Homo sapiens: one gene and its partner. The protein of the gene in region 1 purifies or fractionates together with the protein of each later gene. This does not show direct contact. Each region holds a gene or a part of one and is shown on either strand. Other genes may lie near its edges.

Evidence for each region. The genes of interacting proteins can lie anywhere in the genome.
Region 2: the proteins of DLL1 (region 1) and MIB1 purify together in Homo sapiens (affinity purification with western blotting; 2 studies listed by BioGRID). This does not show direct contact.

Annotation. Positions count from the first base shown.
Region 1 is NC_000006.12:170,281,521-170,288,544, reverse strand, and holds the end of DLL1 (delta-like protein 1 precursor), read left to right. Parts: intron 1-48; coding exon 49-306; intron 307-2,246; coding exon 2,247-2,307; intron 2,308-2,845; coding exon 2,846-2,976; intron 2,977-3,121; coding exon 3,122-3,291; intron 3,292-3,409; coding exon 3,410-3,626; intron 3,627-4,515; coding exon 4,516-5,314; intron 5,315-5,439; coding exon 5,440-5,557; intron 5,558-5,665; coding exon 5,666-5,671; 3' UTR 5,672-6,339; downstream 6,340-7,024. UniProt on the Homo sapiens protein: Transmembrane ligand protein of NOTCH1, NOTCH2 and NOTCH3 receptors that binds the extracellular domain (ECD) of Notch receptor in a cis and trans fashion manner.
Region 2 is NC_000018.10:21,841,337-21,848,987, reverse strand, and holds part of MIB1 (E3 ubiquitin-protein ligase MIB1), read right to left. Parts: intron 5,858-7,651; coding exon 5,771-5,857; intron 4,897-5,770; coding exon 4,735-4,896; intron 2,045-4,734; coding exon 1,863-2,044; intron 1-1,862. UniProt on the Homo sapiens protein: E3 ubiquitin-protein ligase that mediates ubiquitination of Delta receptors, which act as ligands of Notch proteins.

The DNA.
Region 1 (7,024 bases):
TCACAGGGTTCTCGTTCAGAACCAACCAGGAGCATCTTCTCCCCGTAGAAAACCCAGAAAGACTCATCAGCCGCCTGGCCACCCAGAGGCACCTGACGGTGGGCGAGGAGTGGTCCCAGGACCTGCACAGCAGCGGCCGCACGGACCTCAAGTACTCCTACCGCTTCGTGTGTGACGAACACTACTACGGAGAGGGCTGCTCCGTTTTCTGCCGTCCCCGGGACGATGCCTTCGGCCACTTCACCTGTGGGGAGCGTGGGGAGAAAGTGTGCAACCCTGGCTGGAAAGGGCCCTACTGCACAGAGCGTGAGTCTCTGGGAAGGCACCGCTGGCTCACTCGTCCACGAACACGGACCGCGCGCAGGGACGGGGCTTCCTGAGCCACGGGGGGCTTGGGACTGTAGAGATGTTCTGGTGGGGAAACTGAGGCCCAGAGGACAGAAGTGGATTGCTATAAGTCACAGCTCGTCAGTGGGGGGGTTGGGGTCAACGCAGACATTTTAACATCCCAGGCTGTGTTTATCCACTATCGGAACTGCCTTTCTTAATCAGGGAGGATTTTAGAGACAGGGCCAGGGGTCAGGAAGTAAAGCCAGTGCTACCCCCAGGGTGTGTGTATTAGAGAGGGAGAGGAGGAAGGAAGGGAGGAACACAGAGAGAGCTTGTGTGTCAGGGGCACCATTTCAACCCGAGTTCCCAGTGCTGGAACAGCATCACACTGGGAAACGTTCCATTTTCTCTCTGGAGCTGGTGTGCTTGACCTCTCTGGAGCAAACGCCTTTCCGGATACTCCCTGTGACACGCACTGTCTATGCTGGCCAGAGAGCAGGCTTTCACTCCTGTGGGCTGCTGAGGCCAGGTCTCCAAGGCCTGTGTGGGCGAGGGGTGCACAGCCCCGTCTGGCTTGAATGCTCAGGCAGCACCTTGTCTGGAGAAGCAATGTCTTCCCAATAGTGACAGAGGCTCTACCTGCCTCTTATTAGGTATTGATGTGTCAATGTCATGGCAGGCAGGTGACTAGGGCAGGGTTGGGGCCGTGCTGGCTCCTGGTTCTGGCTCATGGGGACCTCAGGAGCCCTCTCTCCAGCTGACTGAGGCCTCGCCTGCACGCCTGGCCGTCCCAGCCCATTGGTACCGGATTTCTCTACAGCTGGGGATTGGGTAGGTCCTGGAGCTGCCCAGAAACTCCAGGGAACTGTCATTCTCCTTCCTTGGAACTGGACAACCTTGGAGAGGGGCTCTGGGAGGCCCAGAACCTCTGGCAGGAGCTGGGTAGTGCCTGGGGTTGAGGGTGGGTCTTCCCATTCACTGAGTGCCTTGATGTCCTTGCTCCTTAGCTTCCCAAATTCCCTCCGGAACTTACTGAGCTCCTTCTAAGCTTTGCCTTGGCCTGAACTGGTTCTGGGGAAAAACAAAAAAACAAAAAACAACTTGTGGAGCTGCTTGTTAATGAGTTTCATAACCAGGCAGCAAGAGCCAGCTCCAAGCCTCAAGCCCACTGTCTACTCCCTGCCCTGCGGGAGCCTCTGGCCAGTCTGCTGCCTCCCACCCTTCCTCCCTGCCTCTCTTCACCACAGGGTAGCCAGAAACTTAAACTTTTTTCTTCAAACACTGAAGTCTCTCCCCGCCCCCAGCTCGCGCGTGCCATAGATTAGATCTCTCCGGGGATAGGCGCAGGGACACCCGCCGGCTCCCATTGGCGGAAGGGGTGCGTGTGCGTGTGTGTGTGTGTGTGTGTGTGTACACGCGAGGGGTGTGTGTGAGGAGGTGGGGCCGGGGGCGCGGGGGAGGCCGGCATTGTTGCGCTGGGGCAGCTGCCGTGGAGGACAGACAATGGAGCAGCTGTCCTGCCCTGGCACCCTGCATACCAGCTGTCCACTCTTATCTGCACACACACTTTCTGGGATATTAAGAGGTGGAGCTTTGTGCACAGAATTGGGAAGTGGGGGAGGAGGAGGGGGAAGACTTCTGACCCTCTCTTAGAAGAAAAGGGGATAGGGTGGGGGTGGGGGCTTCCGAGAGCCCTTTTGTCCTTGAGCCCCTGTGTTAAGAAGAATGCTCATCCCCAGGGCTGAGTCAAGTCCCAGGCTACTAGGCAGGGGGGTCAGTCCTCCACAACCTGGGAAGATTAACTCAGCTGGGATTTGCTGACTGAAGCCGGCGAGTTGTGTCCTGGCCCCAAGGGCGGCAGCCCTGTTGGGACGTACTTGGCGTGGGGCTTGACCCTGTTTTTCCTTTGCTTGTAGCGATCTGCCTGCCTGGATGTGATGAGCAGCATGGATTTTGTGACAAACCAGGGGAATGCAAGTAAGTCTGCACAAGGTGGTGTTTTGTTTTGTTGCCTTTTCTTGTTATCTTTTCACAGCTGGTGTATTTGTAAAAACAGCCCTAGGTGATCATTCGAAAAACTCCAGTAAGATTGATTGAACAGGGGGCCGTTTTCTCATGTTTCTACTTAATCAATGTTTGGCAGCATGTAAGGTCATGGAGTTGTCATTCGTCTAAGCCCCTTAACGGCTATGAGAATTTACAGATAGTAGTTTAAAAAGAGTTGGCACAGGAAATGATAGTATAGTTCAATGGTTCTCAAATGTTGCCTCATCCTAGAATCACTCAGGGAGTGATTTTTGAGATGCTGACACTGGTGCTGCCCTAACACCCAAGAAGCCAGAACCTCTGGTGGGGCCCAGGCCCAGGCTGCAGCTCCCAAGGTGACCCAGTGTTCTGCTAATCTGGAGAACCAGAGGCTCACTGGTGCTGCGGGAAGATGGTTTCTAGGGTGAGAATGTCCACTGCAAAGCCAGCAACAGTCAACGTCCATCTGAGTCTTCTGCTTTTCTCCAAGGTGCAGAGTGGGCTGGCAGGGCCGGTACTGTGACGAGTGTATCCGCTATCCAGGCTGTCTCCATGGCACCTGCCAGCAGCCCTGGCAGTGCAACTGCCAGGAAGGCTGGGGGGGCCTTTTCTGCAACCAGGGTAAGCCTTCTCTCCCTGAGGCAGCCTGCTCCCTCCAGAGCAGCCCTGGACTTCCCTGGCTGTTTGATCACTGGAAAAATAAAGTCTTCCTGCATTTGATGTCGAGCTTCCTATCTCCTACTTTTCCTGTCCCCACCCTTCACAGACCTGAACTACTGCACACACCATAAGCCCTGCAAGAATGGAGCCACCTGCACCAACACGGGCCAGGGGAGCTACACTTGCTCTTGCCGGCCTGGGTACACAGGTGCCACCTGCGAGCTGGGGATTGACGAGTGTGACCCCAGCCCTTGTAAGAACGGAGGGAGCTGCACGGTGAGTCGGAGGCTCCATGGCATCTCACCCGGAAGCTGGGGTGCCCTGGTGTTGAATGGAGTGTGTGGGCTCCTTGGAGCAACTTTGGAAAGCCTTTTCTGACCTCTCCATCGTGTAGGATCTCGAGAACAGCTACTCCTGTACCTGCCCACCCGGCTTCTACGGCAAAATCTGTGAATTGAGTGCCATGACCTGTGCGGACGGCCCTTGCTTTAACGGGGGTCGGTGCTCAGACAGCCCCGATGGAGGGTACAGCTGCCGCTGCCCCGTGGGCTACTCCGGCTTCAACTGTGAGAAGAAAATTGACTACTGCAGCTCTTCACCCTGTTCTAATGGTAAGGGGGCAGCTGGTGATTGCTCAGAGACTCGGGCGAGCGGTCAATACTGAGGTGGCATTAAAAACAAGCATTTGTGAGTGACCTCGAGTTTATGAATCACTTTTATCCAGACCGCCAGGAATTCTCGATGGAAACTCTATCTTTGAGTCTGGAAAGGCCTGGGGAATGAGAGAGGCCAGGGCATTTGTTATGAAGTTCTCTGTGGAAACCTAGACCAAGCAGTGAATGACTTGCTCAGGGCCACAAGGTGCTTCGGGCACCTGCGGCCGCCTGAGGTTCAGTAAGTGATGCCCACAGGTGCCGGCCACTCCAGCTTGGGAGGATGGCCCAGCTGTGTGGCCACCCAGCACAGTAGTTGGGGGTGTCCCTGAGTGAGGACAGAGAGCCTCCTGCTAGCAGCGAGGGGCTGGCTGCCCAAAGGAGACACACAGCAAGGAGAGCTGGGCCCCAGATGTGCCGGAGCATTCCGGAATGGTCATCCTTCCCCTCCCTCCCTCCCCTGTTGTCAGTGCCTGCTCCTCTCACTTGCTGTGTAACTGTGGGCAAGGACACCCTCGTTAAGCCTCAGTTTCCCCATCTGAAACCTGGGTCGAGTGGCACATGCTCTTGCCCGGCTGTTGTGGCGACTAATGCAGCCACCAGAGTGTTCTGCACAGCGCCTGTCCAGATGCTGGCCGTGTGGTTTCTGACTTGTAGAGCTAGACCTGGACACCTCTCGTATTTGAGGTCCTAAACCATGTCACCTTGCGCTGTGGACTCATTCAGGCCACAGACTGTCTTTGGTTTGTCTGGTTTCTACAGTGTCAGACAGATAGATGCTTCAGAGTGACTTTTTGGTGAACAAACCTACGAGGAGACACGTGATGTTCATGTCCCTGTGTTCCAGGTGCCAAGTGTGTGGACCTCGGTGATGCCTACCTGTGCCGCTGCCAGGCCGGCTTCTCGGGGAGGCACTGTGACGACAACGTGGACGACTGCGCCTCCTCCCCGTGCGCCAACGGGGGCACCTGCCGGGATGGCGTGAACGACTTCTCCTGCACCTGCCCGCCTGGCTACACGGGCAGGAACTGCAGTGCCCCCGTCAGCAGGTGCGAGCACGCACCCTGCCACAATGGGGCCACCTGCCACGAGAGGGGCCACCGCTATGTGTGCGAGTGTGCCCGAGGCTACGGGGGTCCCAACTGCCAGTTCCTGCTCCCCGAGCTGCCCCCGGGCCCAGCGGTGGTGGACCTCACTGAGAAGCTAGAGGGCCAGGGCGGGCCATTCCCCTGGGTGGCCGTGTGCGCCGGGGTCATCCTTGTCCTCATGCTGCTGCTGGGCTGTGCCGCTGTGGTGGTCTGCGTCCGGCTGAGGCTGCAGAAGCACCGGCCCCCAGCCGACCCCTGCCGGGGGGAGACGGAGACCATGAACAACCTGGCCAACTGCCAGCGTGAGAAGGACATCTCAGTCAGCATCATCGGGGCCACGCAGATCAAGAACACCAACAAGAAGGCGGACTTCCACGGGGACCACAGCGCCGACAAGAATGGCTTCAAGGCCCGCTACCCAGCGGTGGACTATAACCTCGTGCAGGACCTCAAGGGTGACGACACCGCCGTCAGGGACGCGCACAGCAAGCGTGACACCAAGTGCCAGCCCCAGGGCTCCTCAGGGGAGGAGAAGGGGACCCCGACCACACTCAGGGGGTGCGTGCTGCGGGCCGGGCATCAGGAGGGGGTACCTGGGGGGTGTCTTCCTGGAACCACTGCTCCGTTTCTCTTCCCAAATGTTCTCATGCATTCATTGTGGATTTTCTCTATTTTCCTTTTAGTGGAGAAGCATCTGAAAGAAAAAGGCCGGACTCGGGCTGTTCAACTTCAAAAGACACCAAGTACCAGTCGGTGTACGTCATATCCGAGGAGAAGGATGAGTGCGTCATAGCAACTGAGGTCAGTGCAGGCAGCAGCCGCTCCCTCCTCCTCGGCATGGGAGCACCTGAAGCTGGAGCACGGGAATCGGTCTCAGGCTAACTTCCCATTTGTCTTGTGGCCCCCCAGGTGTAAAATGGAAGTGAGATGGCAAGACTCCCGTTTCTCTTAAAATAAGTAAAATTCCAAGGATATATGCCCCAACGAATGCTGCTGAAGAGGAGGGAGGCCTCGTGGACTGCTGCTGAGAAACCGAGTTCAGACCGAGCAGGTTCTCCTCCTGAGGTCCTCGACGCCTGCCGACAGCCTGTCGCGGCCCGGCCGCCTGCGGCACTGCCTTCCGTGACGTCGCCGTTGCACTATGGACAGTTGCTCTTAAGAGAATATATATTTAAATGGGTGAACTGAATTACGCATAAGAAGCATGCACTGCCTGAGTGTATATTTTGGATTCTTATGAGCCAGTCTTTTCTTGAATTAGAAACACAAACACTGCCTTTATTGTCCTTTTTGATACGAAGATGTGCTTTTTCTAGATGGAAAAGATGTGTGTTATTTTTTGGATTTGTAAAAATATTTTTCATGATATCTGTAAAGCTTGAGTATTTTGTGATGTTCGTTTTTTATAATTTAAATTTTGGTAAATATGTACAAAGGCACTTCGGGTCTATGTGACTATATTTTTTTGTATATAAATGTATTTATGGAATATTGTGCAAATGTTATTTGAGTTTTTTACTGTTTTGTTAATGAAGAAATTCCTTTTTAAAATATTTTTCCAAAATAAATTTTATGAATGACAACCAGAAGGCGTAGTTACTTGGCTTTGCCTTAGAGCGGAGGTGTGCTCACTCACCTGCGGCCCGCGAGGCTGAGGGCAGAGGTGGCCTTGGTGTTTCTCTTTTCAAGGCTTTGGTTTCCCTGGATCCATGAGAAGCAGCCCGTTCCTCTCCTCCCTCAGGAAGCTGCTTGCTGGCCATCATGAGGTGACTTGGTAAGAGCAGGCACGCGCATGAAGCAGCCGCGATTTTCTAATTCCATCCCCCCATGCATTTATTAGTTCTTTCCGCAGAAAGAATGAGCGTTCCTCATTCATTCATTCATTCATTCATTCATTCATTCATTCATGTCAGTGTAGACTTGTGAGTTATTTTGTACCCAGTGGGTCACAGCTGTCATGATTTTGTCGCCGTTTGACGCCAACATGGCCCCAGACGGGGCGTGGGAGTCACGGAAGCTGCTCCTCCGCTTCCCGTCGGTGGGCAGCCCCGTCTCTAAGCGCGTCCCGCCTGCTGGCTCAGCAGGACCGCACGGGCTCCCTGTGGGCTGACCCCTCATTTGCCGCTTTGCCCCCCGCTAAGCCCGGGTTCCTTATGGTAGTGATTGCATTTTTAACTTGCGCGTACCTCAAAGCGCTGAGCGGTTCCCAGGATGGAAAGAGGGCGACCGATGTAGCAGGAGCTGCGCGGAGGCACTGGCGCTCACTCC
Region 2 (7,651 bases), on another chromosome or scaffold:
AAACTGAACACTCACTCACCCAATGGAAAAGGGTGAATCTTCTAACAATGAAATAAAAAACAGCAATTAAAAAAAAAACTTAGCATAAACAAAATTTTGCTCAGAACCTGTTGTATCTATATAGAACCAGCAGAGGAAGGCATAGGAATAAAACAAAAATCCTCACTAGCCCCCATGTTAGTTGCCTTACTAAAGACGGAACAAAGCATCATCAGAGTCCACAACAGATAGGGCACTTTGGAAAATTTAACACTTCAGCTGCTGTTTTGACATTTTTAAGTGTATCCTTAAGGAACATAAAATTATATTACAGAAAGATAGACTGCATCCGTAAACACAGATACAAGGAACAGAAATACATATGACCACCTACAGCTACAGAAAAGGGATGCCCTGTTTCTACCACAATCTTCAGAAACTCACGAACACGTACACAACACGTACACAGAGGGTCCACCTTAGACTCCATTGTTTAAAAGTTATTACTGCAATAATTATAGTGCCTTATATCTTTATATTTATAGATTTTTTTTTTTGGAGACAGAATTTTGCTCTTGTTGCCCAGGCTGGAGTACAGTGGTGTGATCTCGGCTCACTGCTGCAACCTCCGCCTCCCGGTTCAAGCAATTCTCCTGCCTCAGCCTCCCAAGTAGCTGGGATTATAGGCATGCGCCCAGCTAGTTTTTGTATTTTTAGTAGAGACAGGGTCTCACCATGTTAGTCAGGCTGGTCTTGAACTCCTGACCTCAATCCACCTGCCTCGGCCTCCCAAAGTGCTCAGATTACAGGTGTGAGCCACCACGCCCGGCCGATGCATTCTCTTTTTGTAATAGAATTTCATGTTCCTTAACAATACACTTAAAGAAATGTATATACCTCACTATATTAATTTCCTCTATAACACAGTTCTATGCACAGATTCCAAAGAGATGACATTTCATCACTACACATAAATTATGAGAGAGGCAAGGAACACTAAGGTTAAGGAACAGCTACTGAAATTTCAGTGACAAGAACCAGGTACAAAGGGCAACAACAGTTGCACAGCACTGTTCAGATTTAAAAAAGCAATGAGATGTGTACCTTTTTGTACATCTATAAAATCTCATAAGGAAATTAGTTATGTCATAAATAATAATTAAAATCACTGACATATCTTTCAGAAAAAGAGACAAATGTGAAATGATCATCTTTAGAGAAAACTCCACCAGGACTTGGTGCATTCATTTGTTCATTCTCCACTGATACTGAGTGCACCTGTCAGGCACTGAGCAGGGTGCTACAGTTTGTGTGAGATATACCCTGTTCATGGAGTATAAGTTGCCTGTCTTAGGAAGATTCTATTTAAATTTTAAATATAGAGCCAGGCACAGTGGCACATGCATACAGTCCCAGCTACTGAGGATGAAGCAAGAGGATTGCTTGAGCCCAGGAGTTTAAGCCCAACCTGGGCAACACAGCAAGACGTATTTTTAAAAAATAATAATAATACAATAAAAAATAAATACAATTTAAAATACATGTAACATTAACAACAGCAATTTTACTAGAAGACTTTTTCTCATAAATCCCTCTAACACATGGGAGTACTAGAAGATCAGACTAGTTTAGAAAAGTTTCTCAGAACTTATTAAGTATAGAGCATTGCACTCAATAATGTGGGGAATATGGCATAAAATAAGAGACATGCTGCCTGCAGAAAAATTTTCAAGGAAGAAAAATTTCAGGAAAGAAAGGGTCAACACAAATATACAGGAAGAGCAAAGATGAAGACATTTTCAAGTAGCCACGTCCTCCATTACGAAACCACATGATATTTTCTGTACAGAATATTAAGTTTTATGATAATAAATAATACAAACCTGACTTTTTCCTTATGACACTTTGCCAGTGCTTTGCAGAGATTCGGATCAGGACAGAGATCAAGTGGCGATTGACCCTTCTTATTTCGAATGCTCAGGTCAGCACCATTGGCTGCCAAGAAACAGGCAATAGATGCTGCACTCTTCTTCTCTGCCCCCTGGGTACCAAGTCCCATTATTAACTGCAATAAAATAAAGAGTCATGATTTTCCCTCTAGGAATCTGCCATCAATTCTTGTCATCATATATATGTATGTGTGTGTGGTGGACACTTATGAGTTCTAGTCCTAATGTTCCCTCCCCACCACTCTACCCCTGGTTTTCTCAAGCATACACACAAGTATGCTTTCTCCAGTTGTAGAGGTGGACCTACATTCTCCAGCTGCAGAGGTGGACCAAACATGGCCCAAACCAGTCAGATACCTCTACCTTACCTATATGGCTAGAACCGGGATGGACACATAACACAAATCAAGTCAATTAAGCCCAACAGAACTCAAAAGTGGAACTTCTGATTGAGATACTAAAGAAACAGTACTCTCTTTCCTAATTAATTTGGCTCTGGAGCAGCTAGCAACCAACTTGAAACAATGACAGGAGAGACAACTGAGAAAAGAACCAATGACTAGGAATTGAGCCAAGATACGGAGAATGAGACAAATTAGGTTCTGATAATATTATCTGAGATTCTTCTCATCATCTTATGTGAAAATAGTCACAATAACTGTTAACATTTATTGAGTGTCTAAAATGGATCAAGTATTATTTTACACACTTTCCATGATCTTTACAACAACCTTATCGAGGTAAGTGCTCTCCTCTTCCCATTTTAAAATGAGAAAAAAAGAGGCACACCGAGCTAAGAGAACTTACCCATGGTCATAAATAAGGCAGAGGTCTCAAACACTTTGGTCTCAGAACCTTTTTACCCTCTAAAAAATGATTTTAAAATTCTTATGGAAATGTGAAGGACTTAGAATAGTCAAATAACTTCGAAAAAACAAGAAAACTGGAGGACTGACACTACCTGACTTCAACACGTATTATGTAGACAGTAATTAAGACTGGGGGCTGGTATCAAATAGCTAAAAACATAGACCAACAGAACAGAATACATGATCCAGAAAGAGACCTTCACATAAACAATTAACTGATTTTGGATAAAAGTATACTGGCAATTCAGTAGAAAAAGAAAGTCTTTTCAGCCGAGTGTGGTGGCTCATGCCTGTAATCCCAGGACTTTGGGAGGCTGAAGCAGACGGATCATGAGGTCAGGAGTTCGGGACCAGTCTGGCCAACATAGTGAAACCTTGTCTCTACTAAAAATACAAAAAATTAGCCAGGTGTGGTGGTGTGCACCTGCAATGCCAGCTACTTGGGAGGCTGAGGCAGGAGAATCGCGTGACCCCAGGAGGCAGAGGTTGCAGTGTGCCAAGATCACACCATTGCACTCCAGCCCAGGCAACAGTGCAAGACTCTGTCTCAAAAAAAAGAAAAAAGAAAAGAAACAAAGTCTTTTCAACTAATGGCACTGGAACAACTGGATATCCACAAGTAAATAAACCTGGATCCATATGTCACACAATATATACAAATTAACTCAAAAAGAATCATAGACCTAAACATAACAGCTAAAACTTTATAAACTTCTAGTACAAAACATAAAAGAAAACCTTAGCGATCTTGGGTTTGGCAAAGATATCTCAGACAGAACACACACAAAAAACACAAATGATGAAAGAAAAACTTGATAAATTAGACTTCCTCAAAATTAAAAAATTTGACTCTTCCAAATCACTATTAGAAGAATGAAAAGGGCTGGGTGTGGTGGCTCATGCCTGTAATCCCAGCACTTTGGGAGGCTGAGGCAGGCAGATCACGAGGTCAGGAGATCAAGACCACCCTGGCTAAGGTGAAACCCCGTCTCCACTAAAAACAATACAAAAAATTAGCTGGGCGTGGTGGCATGCACCTGTAGTCCCAGCTACTTGGGAGGCTGAGGCAGGAGAATTACTTGAACCCAGGAGGCGGAGGTTGCAGTGAGCCAAGATTGTGCCACTGCACTCCAGCCTGGGCGACAGAGCGAGACTCCATCTCAAAAAAAAAAAAGAATGAAAAGACAAATCTCCTACCAACTGGGAGAAAATATGTGCATTCACATATAAAGAACTTGTATTCCGATTACATAAAGAACTCTCAAAACTCAGTAGTAAGAAAACAAACAGCCTAACAAAATAATGAACAAAAGATTTGAGCAGACACTTCATAAAATACATATGGTGACAGACAAATGAAAAGATGCTCAATATCAATAGTCATTAGGAAAATGCAAATTAAACCACAATAAGATACCACTACGTATCTATTTGAATGGCTGATGTTAAAAAAGAACTGAATGGCTGGGCGCAGTGGCTCAGGCCTGTAATCCCAGCACTGTGGGAGACCGAGGCGGGTGGATCACCTGAGGTCAGGAGTTCGAGACCAGCCTGACCAACATGGTGAAACTCCGTCTCTACTAAAAATACAAAAATTAGCTAGGTGTGGTGCAGGCGCCTATAATCCCAGCTACTTGGGAGGTTGAGGCAAGAGAATGGCTTAAACCCAGGTGGTTGCAGTGAGCCAAGCACTCCAGCCTGGGTGACAGAGTGGGACTCCACATAACAACAACAACAACAACAGAACTGAACAACTTTTGGTAAAAATGTGGAGCAATAAGTTAGTACTGACTAGTACTAAGTTCATAAACTAAGTTTCTAAGTACATAGCTCTGATAAAATATTTTATCCAATACAGGTTAGATTACCAGTAAATATAAGATCTTGCATGAAAAGATTCTTCCACTGGTACTGAATGAAAGATGATCTTTACTCACCGTGTTTTTGGATGGCTCCCAGGCAGCATCCACCTTCCCCACATCTTGCATATCTTGGAGCTGACGTAGCTGAGACAAAGTGTGATGCCTTAGAGCTTCATGCAAAGGAGTATCCCCATCCTTATCCTGAATATCAAGCTTGGCACCTGCACGGACCAAAAGCTAAAAGAGAAAGATGTCTCATTTTGGCAAAGTGTCCACATCCATAAGAAACTTCAACATATCTAAAGTAATGGTGAGAACACCCTGGACCTACTGAAGAAGTTACCACTAAAGCTAATCATTTTTATGCTTTTGCCTTCTACTCTTCTCCAACCCTGTGGCTCCTTACAAAGAGTCACGTGTTCTGGTTATTTAAATATATTGAATTAGAGAAAATAAAAATATATGAGAATCAATATGTTGCTTAATTCATCTACTCTAAGATGATGATAACGGAGGGATATTTAGGACTTTATTTCTCTTTTCAACTTTAGATGTATGACTTGAGATATTTTAAGCACTTCCACCAGGACCAAATCATAATGTTCAAAATTCTTCTATTATGTAAACAAACAAGGAACTGTTATTATTGATTCCATTCTCTTTTGGTCAATTTTCTCCAAATGTATGGTCATGAAGAAAGCCATGGAGGATATCAAGAGGAATTTCAAATAACAATAAATACGAACAGTGTTTGCTAAACTACAACCCCCTAAATAAAAATGCACAGTTGACATATTTCAATAGATTACTTAAGCAGTAAATATAAGTTTATTAAAACTTTGCTTATGGTGCTTTAACAATTTTCCTAATCCCTTCTACGATACTTACTGAAGAGCTTTAGAAAAGTACCATCTATATATAGAAGCCAATCTCAAGCATATGGTCTCATCTGTCTTGGCAGATCACATTGTATTTAGATATTTAGATTTACTTATATCTAACTATGCCAGCTTGAGACATGTAACACTGTATCATTTCAATTTTCAGGAAGTTCTAAAAATCTGTATGGTTAAAATGTAATTATAAGCTAAAATGTATGTCAATACTTTACCCTAACAATCTGGGTATGCTGTCGTTCAACAGCAAGGTGTAGGGCAGTTTGTTGGTTCACATTCTGGATATCCAGGTTTGCATTACCCTGAACGAGAAGAACAAATGTTAAATGGTTAAAATTTGACAACAGTAAAGAACATGAAAACTATAACTACTCATAAGGAATAAATAACACCGAACACTGCTGGCTACTTTCTCCTTCAGCTGCTGCAATGTTATTCTCATATGGTAACAGTTGCTGTTAAAGTAGAAAAAAATGGATGGGGCAACAAACTTTCTGAAGTAAAACAGCAAGTTTTAAAAATCATTTTTATTATGGTAATTCCACCCAAGAACAGTTAAAAAGGACAAAGCACAGTAGAGTTCAAAGACAGATCTCTTTCAATCTCCACTATAAAGCAATGGAGATAATCAACTCCTTAGAACTCTAAATATTTCCTGAAAAGTTATAATAATGAGTCTTCATACTGGATTTAGATTTACTTTAATGACCTAATAAGTTCACTTCCCCTTGCTGCATATTTGAGCTCTTCCTCACTCTGTGAAAAGAAAGTTTGCTTTAGGTGAGAAGGTAATGCTTAATTCGTACATAAAATTATGCATTAAAGTAAGCAGAAAATCCTACCCAAGAACCTAGGGCAGCTGAAGAACCGTATGAGAACAGCTGAACCCTAATGAAGAAAGAGACTGAGGAGCAAAATAAGTGCACTTGGGAGTCAGGGGACCTAGGTCAAAACTCCATCATCTACTTCCTCAGCTCCAAAATGGTGACAGTTAAAACCTATTTCACAGGGCTAATGTGAAGATTAAGTAAAATAACATATGAAAATGCCTAGCAAATGTCTAGCATAATTTAAAAATTTTTTAAAATGAGATCAAGAAAAGAGCTAAAGATTCAAAAGATAAACCGATCATTTCGTTTAGGTCTTAGAACCATGCATGCCCTCTGGTTACAACTCTTGATACTGGCGGGGTATGCAGAGCTGAAACTTTGGTAATGTTATGTCATATTCTTCAAGATGGGAATTTCTCATTTGTTTTTATTATGTTTCTTTGAAGTGTGGTCAGAAGGTACCTGATCTCAGCTTCTTTTCTTCTTTTTTTTTTTTTTTTTTTTTTTTTTTGAGATAGGGTCTCACTCTGTCACCCAGGCTGGAGTGCAGTGGCACATAGCTCACTGCAGCCTCAAACTCCTGGGCTTAAGGAATACTCCTGCCTTAGCCTTCCGAGTGTCAGCTTAATTCTTTATCATGTCTATTTCTCACATAAATGTGCACAATGGGGATTTTTCTTTAAGTTTCCTGAGCTTTTCCATCATTGACATTTCACTAAGTAGTATTCATTGCATAGGTGCACCACAATTTGCACAATTTGTTTATCCCAGCACTACCTGAACATTTGGCTTCGCTTCCAGTATGGGGCTAATAATAGCTGCTACAAACATTTAGTACAAGTATTTGCTTGGAAAGGTGTCCTATGTTCTCTTGGGTACATACCTAGAAGTGGGATAGCTGAGTCACATGATAAATATATGTCAAACTTTGTAAGAAACCACCAATTTGTTTTTCAAAGTGCCTGCTTTAAAAAAAAAACACCAGCAATGTATACAAATTCTAATTGTTCCACATCCTAACCAATACTTGGTTTTATTGGTCTTTTAATTTTAGTCATTCTAAGTGGGCAATTGTAGTAACTGGTTGTGGTTATAATTTCTATTTTGTTAATCACTAATAATGCTTTCACTTGCCTATTTGCTAACTGTATATCTCCTTTAGTAAAGTGGATGTTTAAATCTTTTGACCATTTTTATAGAGTTATTTGTCCTTTTATTTATTCATTTATTTTGGAGATGGTGTCTCACTCCCTCTTCACCCAGGCT